Linked DNA regions of Homo sapiens: region 2 is reported to be linked to region 1. The links are microRNA targets in miRTarBase. Many come from high-throughput screens and were not tested one by one. Region 1 holds a microRNA gene; the other region holds the end of a gene's coding sequence.
The links. Region 1 holds the annotated microRNA hsa-miR-671-3p (UCCGGUUCUCAGGGCUCCACC, at 1,071-1,091, opposite strand). A microRNA usually pairs through its seed, bases 2 to 8, with sites in the 3' UTR of a target mRNA and lowers its output. Matches are read on the target gene's strand: a 7mer-m8 pairs with bases 2 to 8, a 7mer-A1 pairs with bases 2 to 7 and ends in A, and an 8mer does both.

Region 2: the mRNA of TMEM223 is a reported target of hsa-miR-671-3p. The part of its 3' UTR that is shown has no 7-base or 8-base seed match.

What each region holds. Positions count from the first base shown.
Region 1 is chr7:151,236,185-151,239,578 of GRCh38, reverse strand. MIR671 (microRNA 671) reads right to left here and starts at 1,158; the gene lies at 1,041-1,158. CHPF2 (chondroitin polymerizing factor 2) reads right to left here. Exons shown (of 4, transcript NM_019015.3): 3 at 2,989-3,171; 4 at 757-2,205. The coding sequence ends at 898. It overlaps SMARCD3 (SWI/SNF related BAF chromatin remodeling complex subunit D3), which reads left to right. Exons shown (of 13, transcript NM_001003801.2): 12 at 82-183; 13 at 423-799. The coding sequence ends at 476. RefSeq lists an enhancer at 1-28.
Region 2 is chr11:62,787,834-62,791,227 of GRCh38, forward strand. It overlaps TMEM223 (transmembrane protein 223), which reads right to left. Exons shown (of 2, transcript NM_001080501.3): 2 at 2,138-3,082. The coding sequence ends at 2,790. TMEM179B (transmembrane protein 179B) reads left to right here. Exons shown (of 5, transcript NM_199337.3): 2 at 1,190-1,377; 3 at 1,459-1,593; 4 at 1,768-1,846; 5 at 2,053-2,567. The coding sequence ends at 2,214. It overlaps MIR6748 (microRNA 6748), which reads left to right and starts at 1,982; the gene lies at 1,982-2,052.

The sequences.
Region 1 (3,394 bases):
GCGGGAAAGAGAGTAAACGTTGTACTCCAGGGGCAGGTGAGGGGATTCAGGGCTCAGGGCTCACCCCACGCTCCCTCCCAGGTGATGACAGATGTAGCCGGCAACCCTGAAGAGGAGCGCCGGGCTGAGTTCTACCACCAGCCCTGGTCCCAGGAGGCCGTCAGTCGCTACTTCTACTGCAAGGTATGCAGGGACCCTTGCCCTGAGGCTTCCCCATCCTCAACTCCAAGAGAAACCTCCCTGTTCAGCTTGTGGGCAGCCCTCGCAGCTCCCCACAGTAAAGCTTCACCACGCTGCCTCACCATGCAATGGCCCTCCCTGCTCCCAGATGCTCTTTCAGGGCAGGCGGTGTCAGTAGGTGGGATTGTCCTGATCACTCACCAGAACACTGACACCTGCTCCTGTTCTCACTTCCTCTAAAGATCCAGCAGCGCAGGCAGGAGCTGGAGCAGTCGCTGGTTGTGCGCAACACCTAGGAGCCCAAAAATAAGCAGCACGACGGAACTTTCAGCCGTGTCCCGGGCCCCAGCATTTTGCCCCGGGCTCCAGCATCACTCCTCTGCCACCTTGGGGTGTGGGGCTGGATTAAAAGTCATTCATCTGACAGCAGCCGTGTGGTCATTGGAAACTGGGGAGGGGAGGGGGAGAGAAGGGGAAGGGAAGAAGGTGGGGAGGCAGTGGGTCCCTCGGGACGACTCCCCATTCCCTTCCCTTGGATTCTTCTCCTTACTCAATTTTCCCTAGACCTAAAAACAGTTTGGCAGAAGACATGTTTAATAACATTTTCATATTTAAAAAATACAGCAACAATTCTCTATCTGTCCACCATCTTGCCTTGCCCTTCCTGGGGCTGAGGCAGACAAAGGAAAGGTAATGAGGTTAGGGCCCCCAGGCGGGCTAAGTGCTATTGGCCTGCTCCTGCTCAAAGAGAGCCATAGCCAGCTGGGCACGGCCCCCTAGCCCCTCCAGGTTGCTGAGGCGGCAGCGGTGGTAGAGTTCTTCACTGAGCCGTGGGCTGCAGTCTCGCAGGGAGAACTTCTGCACCAGCCCTGGCTCTACGGCCCGAAAGAGGTGGAGCCCTGAGAACCGGAGGAAAACATCCATCACCTCCAGCCCCTCCAGGGCTTCCTCCTCTTCCTGGCCTGCCAGTTCACCTGCCAGCCGGGCTCGGGCCGCCAGGTAGTCAGCGTTGTAGAAGCAGCCCTCCGCAGAAGCCTGCCGGTCAAATCTCCCCCCTATAGGAGCCCCCCGGGAGGGGTCAGCACCAGGAGGGGAGGGGGGGTCAGGGCCAGCCCCCGGGGGCCCTGGGGGTGATCTCTGTGGTGACAGGGCAGGATTGAACTCCTGGAAATGGACTGGAAAGAAGGCCTGCCAGCCAGAGATGGCATTCATGCGACAGCGGTTGAGGACTTCGGGCCCAGGCCTTGTCCACACGGTGGTAAGGAAGAAGAGAGTGTCCACAGGGTGCTTCTTCGAGACCACGTCCATGAGTCGCACCTGGGAAGGGGCCTCTGCTCGCACAGCGAGCCAGGCCAGCCTCGTCCCAGGGTACCGTCGCTCTAACTCCGCTGCTGCAGCCTTCACCCCAAGAAATGGGTCTGGAGCTCCACGGCCACCTTCTCGTGGCCCGTAGACCAGCAACAGGGTGAGCAATGCATGTTCTCGTGGCTCCAGGACATTGGCTGCAAAGGCCTCGAGGAAAGCCGGGGCTGCAGCAGCTTCAGCCACCAGGAGTGGCAGCACCAGCTGCACTCGGGTGGCCTCAGTGACATAGGGCATAGGTAGGATTTCCACCCGGCTCAGTGGCCGCAGCAGGCTGACCCTGCGAGCCAGGGCCCGCCGGTGCCCACGCTGTGTCACACATTCCAACAGCAGGTCCAGGGTGTACTCCATGCCCCGTGCTGGGTCGAAGCGCCGATAGCCGTTGAGCAGTCGCTGCTTCTGGAAGCGCAGGCGGGGCTGATAGCGCCGATTGAGCTGCTCCAGGGCAGTCTCCAACGCATCACCCACGTCCGCCCTGCTAGCCCCCTGTAGTGGGCACTTGGGAGCCCCATCTGCACAGGAGAAGGTGTGCTGCTCTGTGAAGTAGTCCCAGCCCAGCACCTCAAAGCGAGAGTGTGGTGTGAAAGGAGCAGGGAGCCCAACGGGCCAGCTCAGCCCTGCCTCCCCTTCGGGGGTCAGCACGGTCAGGTTCCGGATCTGAGCCTGGGTTGGAGGGAATGCACCTCACATTAGTGCCAGCTCCAGGATCCTACCCAGCTCCAGCTGCCTGGGCTCTGAGATTCAAACAGCTGAGCTCTGTCCTAACTCCATCAACACTTAGTGAGGGGTCCCTTGCTAATCACTGAATCCCTTGTACGTTATTCTTCACCTCTAAAATGCAGATGGAATAGGAATCATACTCACCTTACACAAATGCCATGAGAAGGAGGTGGAAAATGTGCTTTTTGCACAGGTAAAAGTATCTTGAAATAGAAGCTCAACAGCCTTTCTCTCCTACACCCAAAGGACTCACATCCTCTTCATAATCACACCTTTGTTTTCATCTACACTCCACCTCTGCCAAGCCTGACGTTCAACTTGAGAATTCTCCCTTCTACCCTTGGGCTTTCTTGGGACAGTTCTAGAAGTAAAGAAACTTCAGAGTTTTTGCCTCCTCAGTGGACAGGCACTATTGAGGAGGAGCTAAAACTATTCTGTCTGAACACTGTGCGGAGCTTCCTGATCCTCAGAGTCTACTTGCAAACCCCTTTAGCTGCATTCAAGTTGTGCTGGGAGCTTACCTTATGATTGCTTTGGACCCCCAAAGACCTTTGTCCCTGTAGTTGCTTTAAATTTAAGTATGGTCGGCCTCTTCCTGCCCTGCCATTATACAGGGCCTAGCCCAGCCCCACTGCCAGCTGCTCGTTCATTGCACGCCTGGACATCTCAGGCTCTCTCTGACCCTCTGACTGCGGTCCTCTGCCCACCTGCTCCTCTTCAGCTCACCTGCAGTTGTTCTATTTCACTGTAAGCCCGCTCCAACTCCAGAGCGCTGAAGCGTTTGTGGAGCCGGTACATGAGGGTACCTTCGGAGACAGGGTGCACGGCGAAGGCACTCAGGAAAGCCGAGCTCCCTTCCTTCTCAGGGTCCCTATTTTTGGCCAGTTCAAATGAGCGATACTGCTGCCCCTAGAGGGACAATCAGACCAATCAATGACACACACAAGAGCTGCCAGTCCCAAACCGCCCTTAACCATACTCAGTGTTCACATCTGTTAGCACTGCTGCGTTAGAACAGAGGACAGAAGAGGCACCCTTTCCAGCACCTCGCTTAACCCCAGTTCTTTCACTGCCCACATTTTGGAAAGTAGAAAGCAAGTAGGCAACTAAGGACACTCTCGGCTACTCTCAG
Region 2 (3,394 bases), not on the chromosome of region 1:
CAGTGCAGAACCTGCGTCCATCCGTTAAATCAGAAGCCATTTGTGCTGAGCTTTGTCGAGAAATAAAGCATAGTGTAGTGGAGATGATCAAGCTGCCACATGATTGTAGCACAGTGTGTTAAATGACAAAATGAGAGATGGAGAAAACGCTGACGTAAAGGTAGAAGCCAATAATTTACATCGTTTACCCCAGCCAGGTAATCTGGTTAATAAACATGGGTTCATTTAATGCCTATAAAGTAGGCACTAGTGTGCCTATTTTACACCATGAGAAAACCTCAGAGATCCGCCGGGCGCGGTGACTCACGCCTGTAATCCCAGCACTTTGGGAGGCTGAGGCAGGCGGATCACTTGAGGTCAGGAGTTCGAGACCAGCCTGGCCAACATGGCAAAACTCTGTCTCTACTAAAAATACAAAAATTAGCCGGGTGTGGTGGCTCATGCCTGTAATCCCAGCTACTTCGGAGGCTGAGGCAGGAGAATCGCTTGAACCTGGGAGGCGGAGGTTGCAGTGAGTCGAGATCGTGCCATTGCACTCCAGCCTGGGTGACGAGCGAATCTCCATCGCAAAAACAAAAACAAAAACACTGGCCGGGCCTGGTGGCTCACGCCTGTAATCCCAGCACTTTGGGAGGCCGTGGCAGGCGGATCACGAGGTCAGGAGATCAAGACCATCCTGGCCAACACGGTGAAACCCTGTCTCTACTAAAAATACAAACAATTAGCCAGGCATGGTGGCGGGTGCCTGTAGTCCCAGCTACTCAGGAGGCTGAGGCAGGAGAATGGCATGAACCCAGAAGGCAGAGCGTGCAGTGAGCCGAGATGGCGCCACTGCACTCCAGCAAAAAAAAAAAAAAAAAGCACCTCACAGATAGTTATTTGTTGAAGGATATACAAGGCCTGGGTTTACTCTAAGGTTTCTGCACAGAGACCATAACTTGTGAGGCTTCTCTGAAGCTCATTGCATTCTATATTCATTGCCTATTTTCTGATCCTTCTGGCCACTGCCGGTGTGATTCCCCAGCAGGCCCTCTCCATCAATATCCCTGTCCCAGAAATAGGAATTGACGGTGCACAAATAACTTCCTGGAATGCAGGACCATTCCTAAGTTATCACTAACACCCTACCAAGAGACTGTATCTAGAGACATTAACCTGAAATCTAGGACTCAGCAGCTTCTCTCCACAGGGCTCCTTCAGTGGTAGATGTCCCCTGTATGGTGTGGCCACCCTGAATGGCTCCTCCCTGGCCTTATCCCGTCCCTCAGCACCATCCCTGTGCTACTTTGTAGCTGGGGCCTCTGGCCTCTTGGCCCTCTACTGCCTCCTGCTTTTGCTCTTCTGGATCTACAGCAGCTGCATCGAGGACTCCCACAGGTGACTGCCTAACCCTGAGGGCCAGGGGCTGAGGTAGGATGAGCCTCACCTCCACCACAAGGCTTGTTCTCTCCCTTTCAGAGGTGCTATAGGGCTGCGCATTGCACTGGCCATCTCAGCTATAGCCGTCTTCCTGGTCTTGGTGTCTGCCTGTATCCTTCGATTTGGCACCAGGTCTCTCTGCAACTCCATCATCTCCTTGAACACTACAATTAGGTAATGGGAGAGGGAGGGAAGCCTGGCTGGGGCTGACTACCTTCCCTCTGCAGCGGGGTCCTATAATTTCCTTTTATCCCCATCAGTTGCTCTCAACTCACAGGGCACTGGGCACAGGTGTGCCTCGGATATAAACTATCACGCTTTCTCACAACTGTCTCTTTGACCTCACAGCTGTTCTGAAGCCCAGAAAATTCCATGGACACCCCCTGGAACTGCTCTGCAGTTTTACTCCAACCTACACAATGCTGAAGTGAGACCCAAGGATAGGAGGAAAAACTGACATAAATATCTGTAGCTGTGTGGGTGCTCACCAGTGTATTGTGAGCTTGGCCTACCAGTGAGAGGAGCTGAAGGGGTTGTCAGCTTAAAATTCAGCAGTTCAGAGTGGTGTGTGGGTGGGAAGGACTGGATTTGAAATGGTCCCACTCCTGACGATCCTGTCCCTGTCTCCTACAGACCTCTTCTTGGGTGAATTTGGTATTGTGGTGTGTGGTCTTGGTGCTCCAGGTCGTGCAGTGGAAGTCTGAAGCCACCCCATACCGGCCTCTGGAGAGGGGTGACCCTGAGTGGAGCTCTGAGACAGATGCTCTCGTTGGGTCACGCCTTTCCCATTCCTGAAGAATAAGCGGAGTGCTTCCTGCAGCCGAAGACTCCATGCCCAAGTGCCTGTAATCCCCCCCCTCAAGGCCCTGTTTATGTTGGGAGTCTTAGTTTTCCTTTCGTTGGGGGGTGGGGGGGAAACATAATGACAGGCCCCCCTCCACCTCTTCCTGCAGCTGTTTTTGTACCAAAATATTATATTACTGTCTTCATCTTAGTAGTGAGTTTTTGATGTTAAAGTACAACTAGATAGGAGGAAGGAGTGAAGGCTAAGCAGACATGGACTGAAACTTAGAGGTACTGTTAGGCAGCTGCCCTAGGGATGACTGCTCCTTTATTTGTTGTTAATGAATCTTGACCTCCTTGTGTGACCCTGGTTGTTACTCCATTCTAAGATTGGCGTTTTTTTTTGTTTTTTTTTTTGTAAATAGAGACAAGGTCTCGCTATGTTGCCCAGCCTGGGCTCGAGCAGTGCTCCTGCCTCACCCTCCCAAAGTGCTGGGATTACAACAGGTGTGAACCAACACACCTGGCTCCCCAAGGTTCAGTTTTTATCCTCCTCTTGGAGAGGTGAGTGACTTGAGGTCATTTCTTCACAAGCTCCGGTAGGCACCCACAGTATTGTCAAAGAGTTTTGTGTTAGGGAAGTGTCCAGTTTTGTCCAAGAGGAAATAGAAGCGTCGGCCTTTGACTTTCAGAGGTAGCATGGCAGGGACTTCACCCCGGTGGGCCATGCAAGATACCTGCTTCAAAGGAACTGTGAAATGGGCCCCCAAGCCAAAGGGGGCATGAGTGGTGAGGGTCACCTGCTGCCCTCCAGCTCGAAGCACCACTGAGCGCACAGACCGGAGAGAGAAGAGAAGACCAGCACCGAGTACGAGGGCTCCTGCAGGCAGGGCAGAGATTGGGGTGAGGGGTTTTCACTGGGCATCTAAGTACCGACCTTTCCAGTGCCCTCTGAATAAGAAATTTGTGGGATGAAAGTAGTATTTACTGAGCGCTTTTTTTTTTGAGACTGAGTCTCACTCTGCCGGCCAGGCTGGAGTGCAGTACTGAGCTCCTGTTATACCCAGTAATCTTGTTATTCCTCCCAACAACCTTAATAGATGTCCGTTTCCATTTTAATGGGAAGATGGAGAGCTTTAAGGACCTTGCTCAAGGTCGCAGAGTGAAGGGCAGCCCTCAGCCTAGGCTATGA